Homo sapiens: one gene and its partners. The protein of the gene in region 4 purifies or fractionates together with the protein of the main gene of each other region. This does not show direct contact. Each region holds a gene or a part of one and is shown on either strand. Other genes may lie near its edges.

Region 1 (3,515 bases), about 49 Mb from region 4:
AAGCCAACAATAGAACTGGGTCCACTACTGAAGCCCGTGCTGGTGCTGGGTTCGCCAGTAAAGCCAGTGCTGGTGTTGGAACCACTGCCAAAGCCAATGATGGTACTCAGTCCTCTGTCGAAGCTGGCATTAGGCCTACTGCCAAAGCCATCGCTGGTGCTGAGGCCACCACTAAAGCCAGCACTGGTGCCAAGTGTGCTGCCGAAACTAGCATTGGTGCCCAGTCCACCACCAAAGCCATCACTAGTGACCAGTCCACCACCAAAGCCAGCACTGGTGCCCAGTCCGCCACTGAAGCCAGCACTGGTGCCCAGTCCACCACCAAAACCAGTGCTGGTGCCTGGTCCTCCACCGAAGCCAGCGCTGGTACCTAGCCCACCATCAAAGCCAGAACTTGTGCTTAGGCCACCACTGAAGCCAGCACTGGTGCCTAGGCCACCACCAAAGCCAGCACTGGTGTTCAGTCCACCACCAAATCCAGCATTGGTGCTTAACCCATTGCCAAAGCTGAAACCGGTACTGGTGCTGGGTCCATCACAAAAACTAGGGCTGGTAGCACCACTAAAGCAGGCACTGGTGCTAGGAGGGCCACCAAAGCATAGGTTAGTATTAGATGCACTGCCAAAGCAGAGGCTGGTGCTGGGAGCTCCACCAAAACAGAGGCTGGTGCCATGAGCACCACCAAAGCTGACACTGGTGCTGGGAGCAGCACCAAAGCCAATGCTGTTGCTGGGAGTACCACCGAAGTCAGCAGCGGTACTAAGTGCCCCACCGAAGCCAGCACTGGTGCTAAATGCACCGCCAAAGCCAGGGTTGGTGATTGGTGCACCACTGAAGCAAGCACTGGTGCTGACAGCACCACTGAAGCTGGCACTGGTGCTGACGGCACAGCCAAAGCTGGCATTGGTGTTGAGTGCACCACCAAAGCCAGCACTGGTGCTGGGAGAGCCACCAAAACAGACGCTGGTGCTTAGTGTACCACCAAAGTCAGTGTTGGTGCTGACAGCACCACCATAACCAGCATTGGTGTTGAGTGCACTGCCAAAGCTGACACTGGTGCCAGGAGAGCCACCAAAGCAGACACTGGTGCTTAGTGTACCGCCAAAGTCAGCACTGGTGCTCATAGCACCACCAAAACCAGTACTGGTGTTGAGCACACTGCCAAAGCTGGCACTGGTGTTGAGAGCACCACCAAAGCCAGCACCAGTGCTGGGAGAGCCATCAAAGCAGATGCTGGTACTTAGTGTACCACCAAAATTGGCACTGGTGCTGGAAGAGCCACCAAAGGAGACACTGGTGCTAAGTGTGCCTCCAAAGCCAGTGCTGGTGCAGGGAGAGCCACCGAAGCAGATACTGGTACTGAGTGTACCACCAAAGCTACCACTGGAGCTGGGAGAGCCACCAAAACAGACACTGGTGCTGAGTATGCCTCCAAAGCCAGTGCTGGTGCTAAGCGCACTACTGAAGACTGTGCTCGTTGTGGGTGCACTGCCAAAGCTGGTGCTAGTGCTGAGTACACCACTAAAGCCAGCCGTGGTGCTGAGTGTGCCTCCAAAGCCAGAGCTGGCTCCACCACTGAAAGTGGCACTGGTGCTGAGTGGGCCACTAAAACTAGAGCTGACTCCACCACTAAAGCTGGCACTGGTACAAGGCATGCCACCAAAGCTAATGCTGGCTTCACTGCTGAAACTAGTGCTGGTGCTGTGTGCACAACCAAAGCTAATGCTGGCTGCGCTGCTGAAGCTGGAGCTAGTGCTCAGTGTACCACCAAAGCTAATGCTGGCTGTATTGCTGAAGCTGGCACTGGTGCTGGGTGCAACACCAAAGGTAATGCCAGGTCCACCACTGAAGCCACCACTGGAGCTGGGTGCACCATTGAAGCTAATACTAGCACCATCGCTGAAGCCAGCCCTGGTACTAGCTCCTCTGCTGAAGTTGACGTTGGTGCTGGCATCTGCATTTTCTTGGGCTCTGGCCTCAATTTCAAATGAAAATCTGCTCCAGGCCTGAGCATCATCGCCTAACTCTTCCCTTGTTAGGCAGTCGATATCCATGTCATCCCAATTCCAGGGCCCAGCCACAGCTTCCTCTCCAATCCCCATTTGGGCTCTTGCCTCAGCCCTGGCTTCAGCCTCAGCCACAGCCACAGCTGCAGCTTGGACTTCCATCTCCACTGCCTCGCGGTACTGCACAGCCCAGTCCTTGGGGTCTTTCTTCTGCACCTGAAATGGGGATGATAATCATAATAAGAAAACAACCCTAGTAATCATGTATTAACCTACGGGCTTTGTATTAAACTAGTAGCAATACTTTTTTAAACTTCTCAGTTATTGGGGCTCTATCATGGGTCAGTTCTGAACTCCAGTTTCAGCTCTGCTGACTTACGTGCTATATGACCTTGGACAAGTTACTTAACCTCACTTAGCCTAAGTGTCTTTATAATTACAGGAAATGATAGAGCGTAAATATGTTATGAACTGAAGGGTTGTGCCCGCCCCCAAATTCGTATGTTGAATCCCTAACACCCAGTGTGATTGTACTTGGAGATAGGGCCTTTATGGAGATAATTAAGGTTAAATGAGGCCATAAGGGTGGGGTCCTGATCAACAGGATTAGTGTCCTTATAAGAAGAGACACCAGAAAGCTTGCTCTCTTCTCTCTCACACACAAAGCCATGTGAGGACACAGCAAGAAGGCAGCCATCTGCAAGCCAGGAAGAGAGCCTTCAACAGGAACTGACCCTCGTGGACCCTGACCTAGGATTCTCGCCCTCAAGAACTATGAGAAAATAAATTTGTTTTTTAATCCACCCAGTCTATGGTATTTTGTTATGGCAGCCCATGCTGATTAATACAAAGTATGAAGAATGAATGAGATGATGTAAACTATATATCTAGCAGCACCCTGGGACATAAAGGAGGCTCCACATGTTTATATATGAGCTGCAGGCTGCTCTGTACCTGCCCATCCCTGTGCATTGCCTGCCCCAGCCAAGGGTATCCCATTGCCTTAATATGCCAAGCTCGGGCAGCTCTCCTCTTACCCTGCATGCAAACTTGAGGACTTTCATCTTGCTAGTCTCGTGGTAGGAGCGCAAGCCCCAGAAGAACTCATATTCAGGTGGTCTGCTGTTAGGGACCCTCTTGTACTCCAGGTACCTTGGAAAAAGGAAATGAAACTTGTTTCTAACCAAGCAACCCTGCTGTCTAAGCACTAGACACCAGGTGGCAACCTCCTCCAAACAAATACAAACAGCCCCTGGAGAGGGATTTCTAAGACCCTCCAGCCCCAGACTCACTACCAAACACAGTTTATGGTCTTGGCCTCCAATACTGAGCCATTTCCCACTGGCCCTGTGCAAAGCAGTCCCTTGGGCTTCTCCAGGGGAGACATGTATAGGGCATGATGTCACAGGAAGGCCAAAGTATCATGCCACCTGTGAGGAGTAAGCCCAGATTCCTGTTGGGTGTGTTGTAAACAGAGGAGCCATTCTTAAGGCCCTCTGCTCTGAGCGC
Region 2 (3,515 bases), on a different chromosome or scaffold from region 4:
TTATTTTTGAGATGGAGTCTCGCTCCGTGGCCCAGGCTGGAGTGCAGTGGCACAATCTTGGTTCACTACAACCCCCACCTCCCAGGTTCAAGCAATTCTCCTGCCTTGGCCTCCCGAGTAGCTGGGACTACAGGTGTGCACCACCACACCTGGCTAATTTTTGTATTTTTAGTAGAGATGGGGTTTCGCCATGTTGGCCAGGCTGGTCTCGAACTGATCTCAGGTGATCCACCCACCTTGTCCTCCCAAAGTGCTGGGATGACAGGTGTGAGCCACCGCACCCAGCCTTATTTTTTATTTTTTTGAGACAGGGTCTCAGTCTGTTGCCCAGGCTAGAGTGCAGTGACACAATTGTAGCTCACTACAGCCTCGACCTCCTGGGCTCAAGTGATCCTTCTGCCTCAGCTGGGACCATAGCCATGTGCCACCACACCCAGCTAATTCTTAAATTTCTTGTAGAGATGAGGTCTCCCTGTGTTGCCCAGGTTGATCTTGAACTCCTGGGCTCAAGCAATCCTCCTGCCTGTCTCCTGAGTAGCTGGGACCATAGATGAGCACCACCATGCCCAGCTACTTTTTGTATTTTTTTGTAGAGACAGGATTTCGCCTTGTTGCCCAGGCTGGTCTGGAACTCCTGGGCTCAAGCAATCTGCCCGCCACAGCCTCCCAAAGTGCTGGGATTATAGGCGTGAGTCACCATACCCAGCTGAATATAGTATTTTTTTTTGAGAGGGAGTTTCGCTCTTGTTGCCCAGGCTGGAGTGCAATGGTGCATGCAATCTTGGCTCATGGCAACCTCCACCTCCCAGGTTCAAGCGATTCTCCTGCCTCAGCCTCCGGAGTAGCTGGGATTATAGGCATGTGCCACCACGCCCAGCTAATTTTGTATTTTTAGTAGAGATGGGGTTTCTCCATGTTGGTCAGGCTGGTCTCAAATTCCCAACCTCAGGTGATCTGCCCGCTTCAGCTTCCTAAAGTGCTGGGATTACAGGCGTGAGCCAGTGTGCCCGGCCAGCTGAACATAATATTAACAACAGCTAACATTCTGTACTGACTCTGTACCACACATTGTTCTAGGCATTTAAAATGCACTAAGTGGCCGGGCGCGGTGGCTTATGCCTGTAATCCAGCACTTTAGGACGGTGGCTTACGCCTGTAATCCAGCACTTTAGGAAGCCAAGGGGGGCGGATCACCTGAGGTCAGGAGTTAGAGACAGGCCTGGCCAACATGGTGAAACCCCATCCCTACAAAAAATACAAAAATTAGCGGGGTGTGGTGGCAGGCACCTGTAATCCCAGCTACTCAGGAAGCTGAGGCAGCAGAATCGCTTGAGTCTGGGAGGCGGGGGTTGCAGTGAGCCGAGATTGTGCCACTGCACTCCAGCCTGGGTGAAAGAGCAAGACTCCACCTTAAAAAAAAATGCACTAAGTAATTTTACTCTCACATAAAATTTTATCCAAATCTTTAGGGAAAGATGTTACTCATCTCCATTTTATATGAGGCACAGAGAGGTTAAGCGACTCACCCAAAGTTCCACAGCTAGTAAGTGGGAGAGCTAGGATTTGAACCCAAGCAGGCTGGCTCCAAGTCTATACTCTTACCCACTATACCACTGCCTCGCCTATTATATTAGTGATACATAAGAAGAGATGTGTCTGTAAAGGGGTTAGCACAGTGTCCGTAAACATTCAATCAGCATTCACTCTTCACTGTTTCCTTAGCTTTTCAGTAGACGGTGGAATTCTTGGGAATGAGGGTCTTGCTTTATGCATCTTATATTTACTGCTCTCAGGGCAAGGATGGGCAACAATAGTTTGTTGACTGAATACATGAATACAGAGGAGGAAACTGAGGTCAGAGTGGTTTCAAAGGCCTGCCCAAGGTCACCCAGCCAGTAAGTGTGGGGCAGGCCCTAGCTCCACATGGCTGTGGTCTTCATTCTGTCTCTCTGCCCAGCAAGCTCCTCATATAAAGCTGTTTTGCTTGCAGGCCAGAATTGAGGGTGTGGGGTAACTGGAAGAGTGAGCTGAGCTGAAGCTGGGGAGGAGGCCATGGCAAGTACTCACCATTGCCCCCGCTGCCTTCAAGATGCCAGTCGGACTCTGCTATGCCATGTCCAGAGCCTATGGAGAAGGGCAGGGTCCAGTTGGTGGGCATAGACACCCGTGGGTACTATGTCGAGCTCCGGGGCCCCAAGACAGAGATGAAGTGGAGAGAAGCCAGGCCTGGGTACCTTGTTGGCAGCGTGGGCCAGAGAAGCCAGGGAGGCAGAGGCAGCGGGTGCCCTGGCAGGTGCCCCCATGCAGACAGGGTTCACGGAGCTGGCAGGGGTTCTCCTCGTGCTCACACAGGTCTCCTGTGGGCCAGGGCAGAGGCGAGTGGGTGGGTGGGCATGGGCTGGAGGTGTCGCTGACCACCTGTGCCCCTCCCCTCCGGTGCCCTGGGCAGGCTTTCCCACCTTTGAATCCATCTCGACACAGGCACTGGAACTCATACTCGCCAGCGGGCATGCACGTGGCACCATGTTGGCAAGGCTGGCGCTCACATGGGGAGCTATCATAGCATTGCCCGATGCCCTGGCTGCCTAGGAAACTGTAGGTGAGGTCCAGCCGTTTGCCATTCACTGACACCTGTGGGGACAGGGACACCGAGGGACTAAAGGGGCCTGGGAGGCAGAGACCCAGGTGTACCAGCAGGGAGAAGAATGCAGCAGAGGGGAGCTGGGAGCCCACATTGGGCCCTGAGTGGTAGCATGGATTCTCGGTGTGGGGAGGGAGGCGCAGGAGTTGAGTGCCTACTGTGTGCTAGAAACATTCATCCGTCAGTGCAGACAATCCTCTGCCCAACCTTTCAAAGTAGGTGTGATCATGCCCATTTTACAGAGGAGGAAACTGAGGCTCAGAGGTACAGTGTCCTGGCCCAGGGCCCGTGGGTGGCTGCAGGTGGAGGGGCCCAATGCCAAGGTGCTTGGAGAGCCGAGGGGGACACAAGGCTTGGCACCCCTCCCCTCCCGCTTGTCCCGAGGAGGCTGCTCTTACCTCGCCCACACAGCCGCGGAAGTGAGCGCTCATGTTGGTGGCCGGGGACAGTGGCACGGAAGGCTCCACACCCCCCAGGTAGAGCAGGGTGTGCAGGTTGAGGCCCTGGCTCTTGCCGGGCGAGGAGCGCAGCACAGGGCGTCCACCATTCACCCGCAGGCTGCCGTCCTTGTTGAGACGCTCTGCAGACACACGGTGCCAGCGGCCCAGGGCCAGCGGCTCGGCGCTCCGCAGAACGGCCAGCCCTGGGGAGGATGCCAGGCAGGGTTGGGCACATGGGGGCACACGGGGCTCCCTGCCCTCTCCACCACAAACAGGGCCCTGAGCAGATGGGGAATGCCCTACAGCCTTCTGTATTCCAGATGAGGAGCCCATGGCTCAGAGAGGGCTAGGGATTGGCCTCAAGTGACACAGAGACGAAATGCACAGGAAGAGGGGACTTGCCCTGATCCCTGCATTTATCCTCCCATGCCTCC
Region 3 (3,515 bases), on a different chromosome or scaffold from region 4:
AGTTGGGCAGCTGCGCCGGGGGGTTCAGCCGCAGCTGGAGCCGGAGCGCCCCCTGAAGGCCAGGCACAGCGGGTGCCAGCTGAGCCCAGTCACCGAAGGTGGGGCAGGTGATGGTGAGTATGGGCGGCTGCACAGGTGGGGGCGTGGTGGCCAGGATGTCCCGGATCTGTATGGAGGAGGAGTGGTAAGGGACCACCTAGAGCCAGGCAACACCTAGCCCGGTGGGAAAACTGGGCGAGGACACCCTCATCCTTTCCCCCAGGGCCTGCTCCTCAGGGCCCTCCCGCCAAAACCCAACCCTCTCCAGCGCCACAAGGCTCTTTGATCTGGCCTCACCTCCTGTCTCTCCCTCCCCTTCAAATGCCTCCCTGCCCCAGGGCCTTTACACTCACCATTCTCTCCTCCCAGGGCACAGCTCCCTCCAAGGAGACTCTCCACGCCCCACCTGTCTACTGAACCTTTTCTCACCATTTTTAAGTGCCCCACTACAATGTGAAAGTGAGGTTTGCCATTTTGCCCATGTGTCCTACCCAGACTGCGGGCACCAGGAAGGACCCATTTGGCTCCATCCCTCATCAGGACTTTGGGACATCTGCTGACCTACAAACTCAGCTCACACCACACCCTTTCGCGGGCAATGGGACTGACCCCAGACAGCCAGGAGGCATGTGTCACCACTGCCATCCTACAGAGGATGGGGAGACCAGGCCATGGAAAACAGCAGGTCGCTGGTGCCACACAGCCTGATACACCCCAGTCAGGATTCAGAGCTGGGGAAGCAGGGGATGGCAAAGGGGTGGCTTACCTCTCTGTCCTTCAGGACCTGGAGGAAGTGGTGAGGCGAGAAGCCCCCTGTCTGTAGCAGCAGCTCCCCCGTCTCCTCCAGGCAGGGCCCAGCCAACACCAGTAGCTTGTGAGAGGCAGGGTCCAACAGAAGGTTCCGGAGCTGAGGGAGGGGGTGAACACTAAAGGACCCGTTCTGTGCAGTGACGTATCCAGCAGTCCTCTTTGGGGTAGCCTCGAGTCGATACATAACCACCCCTCTCCTGTCCTCACCCCACGACCAGCCCAGTGCTCAACTAGCTACGAAGGCAGTCTCCAGGTCTCCTGCTGGGCCCTGGAGCAACCCTAGCAAACTCCTATTCATCCTACAAAGCCCAGCTCTGATGTCCCTTCCTCCTGAAGGCACTACTTGCCCTTTCTGGGCTCTCTCTAGTCCACCTCTCCCTCCAGCCCAGCCCTGATGCCACAGGGCTGGGGGTGTCTGTGTCTCACTCTGTCTCTTAAAGACTGAGAGCCCCTCAAGGGAACAAAAGGGAAAAGTTGATCCAAGGAATCAACCTGTAAGAAGGTCTGTAGTGGGATGCCCCAGGGCTCTGTCTGGTTCATCTTCCGGATGTATAATTGGTAGAGTACAGATGGCCACAAGCTGGTTAATGTTAGTGAGTCGATTCAGACAACTCCTGGGGCCTAGCCGGAGGGAACCCACAGGAGGAAAACCTGTCTGCTCTGGCCTTCCCACCTCCAGACCCACGCTGTCCTGGGCCCTGAGCTGGGAGTGCTTACCCTCCCCTCCCTCCCAAAGTCCAGGCTTTTCTGCTCCCACCCCAGAGGAGGGAAGAAGCGGAGGCTGAAGCCACAGGGAAGGCTTCGTGGGCGAAGAAGTGTGGTGCCGGGTGTCTTGAGAGGATCTGGGGCAGCATGAAGACAAGGACACGAGACAGGAAGACAGAGAAGGCACGGGTCCCAGCAGCCCGCCCCCTCCAGGACGTCAGCCATTCCCTACCTCATCATACAGGGACTTGTCTGATGGGTTCAGGAGGACCAGGGTCTCCAGGTTGTCTCCACGGTGGTGCAGGCTCCGCTGGCCTGTGGGGGAATCAGGCCGTCCCGGAGTCAAATCCTGCCTCCCCGTGTGACCCTCAGGGAACATGAACCCCTCTGGGAACCCACCCAGGGATCATATGGAGATTAACAGGCGCACGGCAGAGCTGCAGGTCAGGACCAGGCAAGAAAGAGAAACTCAAACCACCCCAGCTGGCCTAAGAGAGGCAGTAACCAGAGGGCCCCATCGTGCGCAGGGCCTGGTTTGCAGCTGTCACCCCTGGGAGTGATGCCACCATTTTCTTCTTTTTTTTGTGAGACGGAGTCTCGCTCTGTCGCCCAGGCTGGAGGGCAGTGGTGCAATCTCTGCTCACTGCAAGCTCCGCTCCTCCTCCCGGGTTCACGCCATTCTCCTGCCTCAGCCTCCCGAGTAGCCAGGACTACAGGTGCCCGCCACCACACCCGGCTAAGTTTTTGTATTTTTAGTAGAGACAGGGTTTCACCGTGTAAGCCAGGATAGTCTCCATATCCTGACCTCGTGATCCGCCTGCCTCGGCCTCCCAAAGTGCTGGGATTACAGGCGTGAGCCACCGCGCCCGGCCTTTTTCTTTTCTTTTTTTTTGAGACGGAGTTTTGCTCTTGTTGCCCAGGCTGGCGTGCAACAGTGCAACCTGGGCTCACTGCAACCTCCGCCTCCTGGGTTCAAGCAATTCTCCTGCCTCAGCCTCCCGAGTAGCTGGGATTACAGGCACACGCCACCACGCCCCATTAATTTTTTCAATTTTTAGTAGAGACGGGGTTTTAACATGTGGGTCAGGCTGGTCTCAAACTCCTGACCTCAGGTGATCCGCCTGCCTCGGCCTCCCAAAGTGCTGGGATTACAGACTTGACCCACTGCACCCATCCGGCCACATTTATTTTTCAGACAGAGAGCCAGAGCTCGAGGAGGGCCAATGAGGGCGAACGTGGACGAGGGTACATCCGGAGCAAAGGTCCTGAGGCAGGACTCAGCTAGGGGTGGGGCAGCATAAGGGCCGGGGCTGAAGTAGGGCTGTTTCTGGGATCCTGACCCTGCTCTGTCCCCCAGGGCCCGTATGTGTTTTAAACATCAGTACTGTGAGAGGGGGGTGGCAAGGAGCCAGAGCCGGGGTGGGGGCCGGTGAGGGCCAACCCGGACCAGGGTACAGCACCAGCCAAGGCCCCTGAGGCAGGACTGAACTGTGAACAAGGCTGAGTCTTGAGAGGCAGAGACCCTCCAGTGTTGCCAGCCCTTATCACATTTAACTTTCTTTCCTTTCTTTCCTTCTTTTCCCTTTCTCTCTCTCTCGCCCTTATCACATTTAGCTTTCTCTTTCCTTTCTCTCTCTCTCTCCCTCCCTCTCCCCCTCCCTCCCTCCCTCCCTCTCTCTCTCTCTCTTTTTTGAGATGGAATCTCCCTCTATTGCCCAGGCTGAAGTGTAGTGGCACGATCTCAGCTCACTGCAACCTCTGCCTCCTGAGTTCAAGCAATTCTCCAACCTCAGTCTCCCAAGTAGCTGGGGTTATAGGCGCTTGCCACCACAACCAGCTAATTTTTGTATTTTTAGTAGAGATGGGGTGTCACCATACTGGTCAGGCTGGTCTCGAACTCCTGACCTCAGGTGATCCACCCACCTCAGCCTTCCAAAGTGCTGGGATTATAGGTGTGAGCC
Region 4 (4,236 bases):
AGCTCCTCTGCCCATCTTCACATCAAAGCAGCCTTTTTCTCTTTCTTCCTATAACTCACCGGCATCAGTCCCCTTGAACTCTCACTCTTCACTCCCCACAGCCCAATCAGAGTTCATTGTTAACGCTGTTTTACTAATGCTCCTCATTCATTTCTGAATTTACAAATGGAAAACACACACTCCAGGGTAAAATATCCCAATGGATACGGTTTCTGAAAAAGACATGTCAAATTACCCAGTAGACATGCAAGGATAATTTTAGAAATTTATTTGTATGTCCCATTTGACAGAAAGACTGGCGCTTTAAAGCGAAAACAATTAGCATAATGAGAAATAAGTCACTGAGTGAGATGCGGTGTTTTAGACAAGGTACACAGCTCTGTCTCTGGAAAGGAACAGGGTTCTGCCAAGCGTCTTTGGTTTTCAAAGTGTTGCTCCGGACATGTAGGGTCACCTGGCGGCACCGTCCAGAGCGATTTAGTTGTGGCTGATTTCGTGGGGGGTTTTTCTTGGTCTCCTTGTGCAGTGAGCATTTCTCTTCAACTATTTTCATGACATTTTTCTAATATTCTGCAAAAACAGAAAGTAGCAAATCCCAATGAGGGGACTTCTTGGCCCTACATCCTTTCTCTACGGAGCCCAAGTGGAGCTCTGGAGGTGAACTGCCCACGCTGCCCAAATGCACTACTCAGGGAAGCTCTGGCTACTATCCTGCCATGCCCCCATTTCCCTCTTGACCAAACGGTCCTCTGCCAAAGGTGGAATAATCTATGTGGCTATGTGTTGGGCCATCTGGTGTGGTTCTTTCCCACTTCTGATGGGCTCAAGAAAATTTTGATTTTTGTCATTTTCCCAGCTTTTGTTTCATGGTTTGACTGAGAGTGTCACCCTTTACTGGTTTCTACATATGAAGGAGAAAGGTTGTTTATGAGATGTTTCAAAATTCACGGGAAACATTTGACAAAAATGGCCACATATTGAGCTTCAAGGCACAATACAATAAATTCCTATGGGTCGCAATCCCAGAGTATGTTCTCTGGTCCACATACTCGGGCGGCTGGAGATCCTCTGAAAAGAAAAGCAATGGGAAAGTCAGCAGCTGCTCTGAAATTCAACAATACACTCATAGGAAAAAGTGCTAAAAATACAAAGACTTGGGACCCAGAAGAAAGCACAATGAAAGCTAACCTATATTAACATTAACATGAATATTAATATGCAAATCTCTTGAGGAAATAAGCGTTATCTGACTTCTCCTAAAGGCTGACCATCCTCTGCATAACTTGATGCTAGGGGCAAGGAACATATACTACTCCTAGCACTGGATTCATATCCTTAAATGACCATGATTACAAACACTGAAAACAAAAACATCAGGTAAAGAATCACAACCCTGTCCCCCCAAACACCAGACTGCATATCAGTGCAAGGCTGTTGTGGGTTCAGCCTGGTTCACTGCCCCCACACTGGGACAATGACTGTTGCTCATAGACTGCAAGTCACTCATTGGCTACACCACTGAACACTAGGGCATGAGCCATTTCTGTGGACACTCCCTAAGCCTACTGACACAAACCTGGAAGTAACGAAGGTTTCTGTTTAAAAAGAAACGAAAAGATTATCGTCATGGCAAAAAAAGAATGAACTGCAATAGTGATCTCAGAGTCGAGGAAGCTGGAAAATGAACGGATTCTTGAAAATTTTATTTAGCTGTATGTACACTGTAACTTGGCCTCATTTGCTTATTTACATGGATTCGTGATGGGAGCGGTGTTGAAAACATTTAGGAGGGTTACCTTGCTTCTTGTATCAGCGTATTCACTTTCTCTGTTGCTGTATGGCATACAGTGAAGTTCTGGAAAATTCCACCATCCAGTCACAGGAGAATGAGACAGAAAAAGGTAAAGATCAGTGCAGTAATAATATCACCATATAGATAGCCTAGAAACATAACTAACAAAAATGACCGTTTACGAAACTGAGGAAATGAAACACGATCACGGAAACACCCACTATTTTTCCTTGGAGCAAACTGCACTACAGATATATTGGAGCTGACAATGTTTAGTACTGAGGGGAAAATGCTTGAAACATTGCAGGATGCCACACGCCACATGCCCCCCAAGTCGGAAGGGCACCACCCACCCCAGCCTCCGGTGGTGTCCCCCTTGGCGAGCCACTGGTCTTTCAGGCCACATTCAGTGGCTCTGAAAAGACCCTTTGGGTTCCCGTGGTGCTCGGGTGCTCCTGAGGGAGCGCACTTGCTCCTGGTGTACCTGAGGACAGCCTTCGTGCCTTCGGACTCGGCGAGCTTGCCCATCTGCCCCGGCAGCAGCAGGCGCACAGCCATCCGGGTCTCCCAGGCAGTGATGGTCTGGCGCTTGGTGGAGCGGGCCAGGTGACCAGCCTCGGTGGCGATGCGGTCCAATATGTCATGAACCAAAGAATCCATGACACTCACGGCCTCCCGGGAAAGGCTGAGGCCCTGGTGAACCTGCTTCAGCACCCGGCGGAAATAGGTGGCGAAGCTGTCCCCGCGGCAGTTGGAGTGGCACCTGCGGGGCCCATGGCGCCCTCGCTTCCTCTGCTTGCTCTGCTTCTGGGACGTAGTGGAGTTGGCCTCTTTGGGCTCCTGGGTGATCAGCTGTTCCTCAGAGGTCGTCTCAGAGGAAGGTCCAGCCATGGCGGAGGCAGTGGCCATTAGATGGCACGACCAGACAATGGCGGTTGTGGACCGGGGAAGCCGGGGCACTTCGGTACGCAGCATGGCTCCACGTCTCGGGCCAGCTTCACGTCTGATTGGATGAAGTGTCACGCAGGGAGCCTCTCAGCAAACCTACCTGCGTTGAAGGTGACTGGATGGTCCCGTTGCGTGGCATCTCGTCAACCAATCACAGTGGGCGTCTGCGGGCCTAAGCGCCCCTTGTGGCCCAGCTCGGAGAAAGTTACACAGATAGATGCCTCACGGGGCAAAAGCGCATCCGCCCTTCTCAGCTGATCCATGCCACACTGTGAGCACTTTGAAGGGTGTCACTGAAAACTCCCAAAGTTTAGCAATTTCAGCTCATGATCCCTGAGGAGAGACAGACCTCCTGAGCCCAAGTCCATTATGCCGGAAGAATGACTGTGGCCACGTGTGGAACAATTGTCACCCATCTCAGAAGCTACTGTTATCCTGGGCTAAGCCACCCTGGCTTGAGCAGGAACTCCCTGACATGGCCGCCTGGGCATCAAAGGACCTAGCGGTCTGGCTCCGGGCTTCAGTACTGATCAACATCTTCCGTGAATCAGGAGAATGAGAAATGGCCATACCCCAGCCTCCAAGCAGACAATAGAAACAGAAAGGCACTTTTATTAAAAACATATGACAACACTCGACATCGACCAGGTTTAAAAAAATAATTAAAAAAAAAAAAAGGAAAGCAAAACAACAACCACAAATCACAACTCAAAAGCTGGAAATGGCTAATAAGTTTAAGAGATATTGGGTTAAAAAATATCGCCTTAAATCTCCTAGGAAGCCCCTGAGGGAGAGAAAGGGATTCCAGAAATGGAAATTATGTTCAAGTTAGAAAGAGAGCTTTCAAGAGTCTCTGATAATATACGCAAAGGCATTCCTTAAATGCATTTAAGTAACATTAAGTTGCAGGAATTGAACAAGAAAGATTCTTAAGAAATGCTGAAGAAATAAAGGTCATCGATGAACTGTCATTTCAAAGGTCAGGCTTTCAAGTGTATTTCCTGTCATGTCTTTAGCAAACAACTTATTCTACTCCTAATAAATTGGTTCACGATTAAGAAGGACAAAAAGGCTCATTTTTGTTGTTAGATAAGATCGTATATGGTAAGCTCTGTGACTGAACTCTAGTACACCATTTCTGAACAGTCCCCTTTACAAATGATGATCTTATAAATCTACTTAAACGTTTAGCAAGACAATCCTTCTCGTAGTTTGGTACAAGGCACAAGAGACCTGTCCACAACAATCTCTGTATTCATATCAGTAAGTCAGCATGATATTTTTCTTAAAAAAAAAAAAGCAAACAAAAAACAGGGAAAGAGCCACATCGTTTTTCTTCACAATCTGCAAGGTTAAACCTCCCAGGGAGGCTCTCACTGGTTCATTTCCGGGTCACCTCCCCACACTTTCAGCCATGGCTTGTGGTGCCTCAAGGGCTGGAAAGCCTTTATTGCCTGAGCCAGTGGTGACTATGGCATGAGCTGCTCTCACAGGAT
Region 5 (3,515 bases), on a different chromosome or scaffold from region 4:
AATGGCAATTAAGCATTATAATTAAAAACTAGAAGTCCAAAGCCAGACTGACCTGATTATAACCATGGCTCTGCCGCTTACTGGCTGTGCATTTTTGAGCAAGTGATTTAACCCCTCTGAACCTATTTTCTTATCTTTCAAGTGGAGATGATGCTAGTAAGGGCCTCAAAGAGTTGGTGGCAGAAGTGAATCAAAGCATCCATGTAAGGGCCTGATACTCACTCACTGGGCAAGTTCTCAGTAGTTAACAAAAACAATAATGTGAATAAGATGAAAAAAGGCCATCTTCTTGCAGAACAGATCTTGGACATTTGCGCTGAAGACATTGCTAGCTGCTGTAACAGATAAGTCTCTACAACTTATTTCTCACTCCCGAAAAATCCAAAATGGGTTTCCATGATTGGCTGGTGTTTCTTGTCCACATAGTGATTCATGGATCCAGATGCCTCCCATCTTGTTACTCTCACATCTTCAATACATGATTCCCAGGGTTGCCATGGAAAGAAAAAGACCATGGATAATAACCTATGAGGGTTTTAAGGGGCCAGGCCTGCAAATGGGGCACATCACTTCTGACCATGATCCATCAACTAGAACTTAGTCACATGCCCACAACTAATTGCAAGAGAGGTTGGGAAATGTACTCTGGCTATTTACTCAGAAGAAAAGAGGAAACAGCCAGTCTCTGTCACATGATAAACCAATCTGAACGCTGACCCTAACCCCAGAATGAGTTACCACCCAAAACCTGTTGGGCCCTGTTTGACCCATGTTCTGCATCCAGCCTTGTTTGAGAAACAGACAGCCCTACATCATAGACAAAGCAGCTTCCTAAGCACTCATCACCTCTGCAGGGCAGTGAAGCTGGTCACAGGAGAACAGCTATACTATCTGGTCAAACTTGACAAAGATGTGTTCTTCCTTCCTTCAGTAAACCAGGAGGCTTCACTCATGGCTCTGCATGCTTTGAAAACAATGATAGGTCCTCAGGCAACTGTGTCTGTTCATCATTGCACATTAGCTTGACTGCCCTTTTGGCTGTTATTGGCCTAGAAAATGAAGGTTCTGTGATTGATCTTGAAGGGATCTCTGTGGTCTTTATTTCTGCAACTCTTCCAATTATAAATCACAATAAACATTAACTTTGTTTATAAAACCTCAAAGCTTACCCAAAGACAAACTTTTATAGAGGAGCTGGATGGAGAGATGAGTCAGGCTACAGTGAGAAGCAACAGAGTCTGACCACAGGCCCCTCAGCAATCGAGATGCGACTGGAGCAACGCAGTCAGTTCTTTTAGCACAGGACTAATTAGAAGGCTGGCTATGTAGACCCCATGAATAAGGTGGACATGAGAACAACAAGCTGTGTACTACTAGGAGGGGCAGTAGGGGCAAAGAACCAAAGTGCCATGGAGGCCCTGCCACACCCTCCTATCCCTTCCCAGCAGGCATCCTAACAGGCTGCTCCCTGCACTGCAAACCACCTTCATTCCCACTGGCACCTTCAGCACACCCAGCATGCTCAGTCTGAACATCTCTCTAGCCCTTTGTCTGGAGTAATCCTGCCTACTGGTCCCAATACCTTCCCTGGCAATGATCCATCAATGTGCTCCCTCTTCTGCATTCCTGCCATGGCCATGCCTTCTGTCAGTCACAGTCTAGTTTGGGGCAGCTGCATGTCCAGACTCCAACCTTGTGCACAGGCCCTGTTGACCTCCAACACATCTCTCTATTTGCAACAACCAGAGATCCACCGGGATGAATTTCTCCCTCCCAGTTCCCTCAATGGATGTGGCAGCTGCAGACCCAGGGCCCAGCTAAAAGTGCCTCACAATCTCCCTCAGGCTGCCCCTATTCTTTAATATACTCAATTATTTTTCTTAGTCTTATATACAGTACTCTGCAAATGCAGTTTCCAGCCCTTCCTTCCATCATGATTGCCAGTCACTCTAGATCCCATTTACATATAAGTTCTGAAACCAGCTATCCCATTCTTAGCACTCAGTGCATGGTATCATCATTGCCTATTTACCTGTCTGTCTTGATGAAACGAACCAATTTGCTCTACTCACCACTGTATCTCCAAGCACCCACCACCCTGCCTGGCACCCGGTAGACATGCACATGCCAGCTACAAGGTAGCTGATTAGTTGGCACTGACAGTGGATAGGGAGAAAGGAGAGGGCAGCATTTCCAAAGCCCACAGGACTGGGAGCTATGGCTAGTGGGACACCAATCAGAGACCTTCTCTTGGACATTCATGTACATACACCTGGCAAAATCCCTATAGGAGCCCAGACACTCAAAATTCAGGGAGCTTGTAGAGCTACCTTGGGGATTCTCAGGAAAGGAACACTCCAATTGCCCTGATAGCTGGGCATAAGGCACACTGAGGCCTTATGACTCTGTGACAGTTCTATGGTTCCAGTGACCTCTCCTCCTGCCTCTGGCTCAGTACCATAGACTGCAGGAAAATACTTAACCTTCCTCACATCTATAAGAGATTGACTCCTGTTTAAGCTACAGCACAGAAACCCCTTAAACAATCAGGGCACTCATGAAACCGCTGGAATAGTCAATCATGAAGTATTTTATTATCTAAGCAATGAATACATGCCTATTGATCCCATGCAATATTGATTAGAACTGCTGGGGAGTTGCTAGTCAAAGAGCCCTATCTCCAGCCCCTGAGGATAGAGGAGTCTGAGCTATCAGTGCTCAAATAACTGCTGATGAGGAAGAACCACGCCATCCATTCTGGCAGCTGGATAAATGCCCGCATATCCACATGCATTTGTCACCTTCCCATCAACTCCAATCACAAAGGCCAACCTGAGAAACTTAATTCTGAAGGACAAGACACTAATCCTGTTTACAGCATTCTCTTCCCTCTTCCGTTTACTCCTATCACACCAAATGATTAACGGTGTCACCCGCTGTCATGTCCCCAGAGGCATGTGGATATACTAGACAACCATTGCTCACAGAGCTGGGGTTCACAAGCTGCACTCTGATTGGCTTGGATCAGAGACCTGTTCTAGTATTCTAGCCAATCAGGAAAAATATCTCTCTCCATTCATAAAACACCATATCAAAAAGTGAGCCAGATGATTAAAGAACCTACAGTCCACTCTCAGTGAACTAGGGGACTGCAAACAGAAGAGACAGACCAACTGAGATAGTAAATAAATCATAAACCATGCATTTTGTTCCAGCAGATGTGTCTTACTCCTGTTATGTTTTCAGTGGCAGGAAGAAACAAAACACAAACACAAATGTCATTTACCACAAGCAAGAAACAGTTTTGGGGAAGCTAGTCTGGGATTGAAATTTCACCTCTGCAAACCCATTCGGTGATGCGCTTCCCGAGATGCACTGAAGGAACTGTGCAGCTTGCTACATTTTAACAGCAAGTTACTGCCTGCCTGCTTTACAAAAAAACTTTTCTACATACTCCTCTCTCTTTTAAAGGTTGTGCCAAACTCTTAAGATAACCAGTCTCACGGAAGGCTATT

What was found.
Region 1: the proteins of H2BW1 (region 4) and TRO purify together in Homo sapiens (affinity purification with mass spectrometry; one large-scale study listed by BioGRID and IntAct). This does not show direct contact.
Region 2: the proteins of H2BW1 (region 4) and HSPG2 purify together in Homo sapiens (affinity purification with mass spectrometry; one large-scale study listed by BioGRID and IntAct). This does not show direct contact.
Region 3: the proteins of H2BW1 (region 4) and MAP1S purify together in Homo sapiens (affinity purification with mass spectrometry; one large-scale study listed by BioGRID and IntAct). This does not show direct contact.
Region 5: the proteins of H2BW1 (region 4) and MACROH2A1 purify together in Homo sapiens (affinity purification with mass spectrometry; one large-scale study listed by BioGRID and IntAct). This does not show direct contact.

Annotation. Positions count from the first base shown.
Region 1 is NC_000023.11:54,927,310-54,930,824, reverse strand, and holds part of TRO (trophinin), read right to left. Parts: exon of another isoform or gene 3,390-3,515; intron 3,159-3,389; coding exon 3,044-3,158; intron 2,223-3,043; coding exon 1-2,222. UniProt on the Homo sapiens protein: Could be involved with bystin and tastin in a cell adhesion molecule complex that mediates an initial attachment of the blastocyst to uterine epithelial cells at the time of the embryo implantation. Directly responsible for homophilic cell adhesion.
Region 2 is NC_000001.11:21,825,796-21,829,310, forward strand, and holds part of HSPG2 (basement membrane-specific heparan sulfate proteoglycan core protein isoform b precursor), read right to left. Parts: intron 3,285-3,515; coding exon 3,040-3,284; intron 2,632-3,039; coding exon 2,460-2,631; intron 2,358-2,459; coding exon 2,235-2,357; intron 2,125-2,234; coding exon 2,068-2,124; intron 1-2,067. UniProt on the Homo sapiens protein: Integral component of basement membranes. Component of the glomerular basement membrane (GBM), responsible for the fixed negative electrostatic membrane charge, and which provides a barrier which is both size- and charge-selective.
Region 3 is NC_000019.10:17,722,480-17,725,994, reverse strand, and holds part of MAP1S (microtubule-associated protein 1S), read right to left. Parts: intron 1,870-3,515; coding exon 1,787-1,869; intron 947-1,786; coding exon 806-946; intron 167-805; coding exon 1-166. UniProt on the Homo sapiens protein: Microtubule-associated protein that mediates aggregation of mitochondria resulting in cell death and genomic destruction (MAGD). Plays a role in anchoring the microtubule organizing center to the centrosomes. Binds to DNA. Plays a role in apoptosis.
Region 4 is NC_000023.11:104,010,894-104,015,129, forward strand, and holds H2BW1 (histone H2B type W-T), read right to left. Parts: upstream 2,816-4,236; 5' UTR 2,684-2,815; coding exon 2,277-2,683; intron 1,856-2,276; coding exon 1,819-1,855; 3' UTR 1,797-1,818; intron 571-1,796; 3' UTR 254-570; downstream 1-253. UniProt on the Homo sapiens protein: Atypical histone H2B that can form nucleosomes structurally and dynamically indistinguishable from those containing conventional H2B.
Region 5 is NC_000005.10:135,392,719-135,396,233, forward strand, and holds part of MACROH2A1 (core histone macro-H2A.1), read right to left. Parts: intron 1-3,515. UniProt on the Homo sapiens protein: Variant histone H2A which replaces conventional H2A in a subset of nucleosomes where it represses transcription. Nucleosomes wrap and compact DNA into chromatin, limiting DNA accessibility to the cellular machineries which require DNA as a template.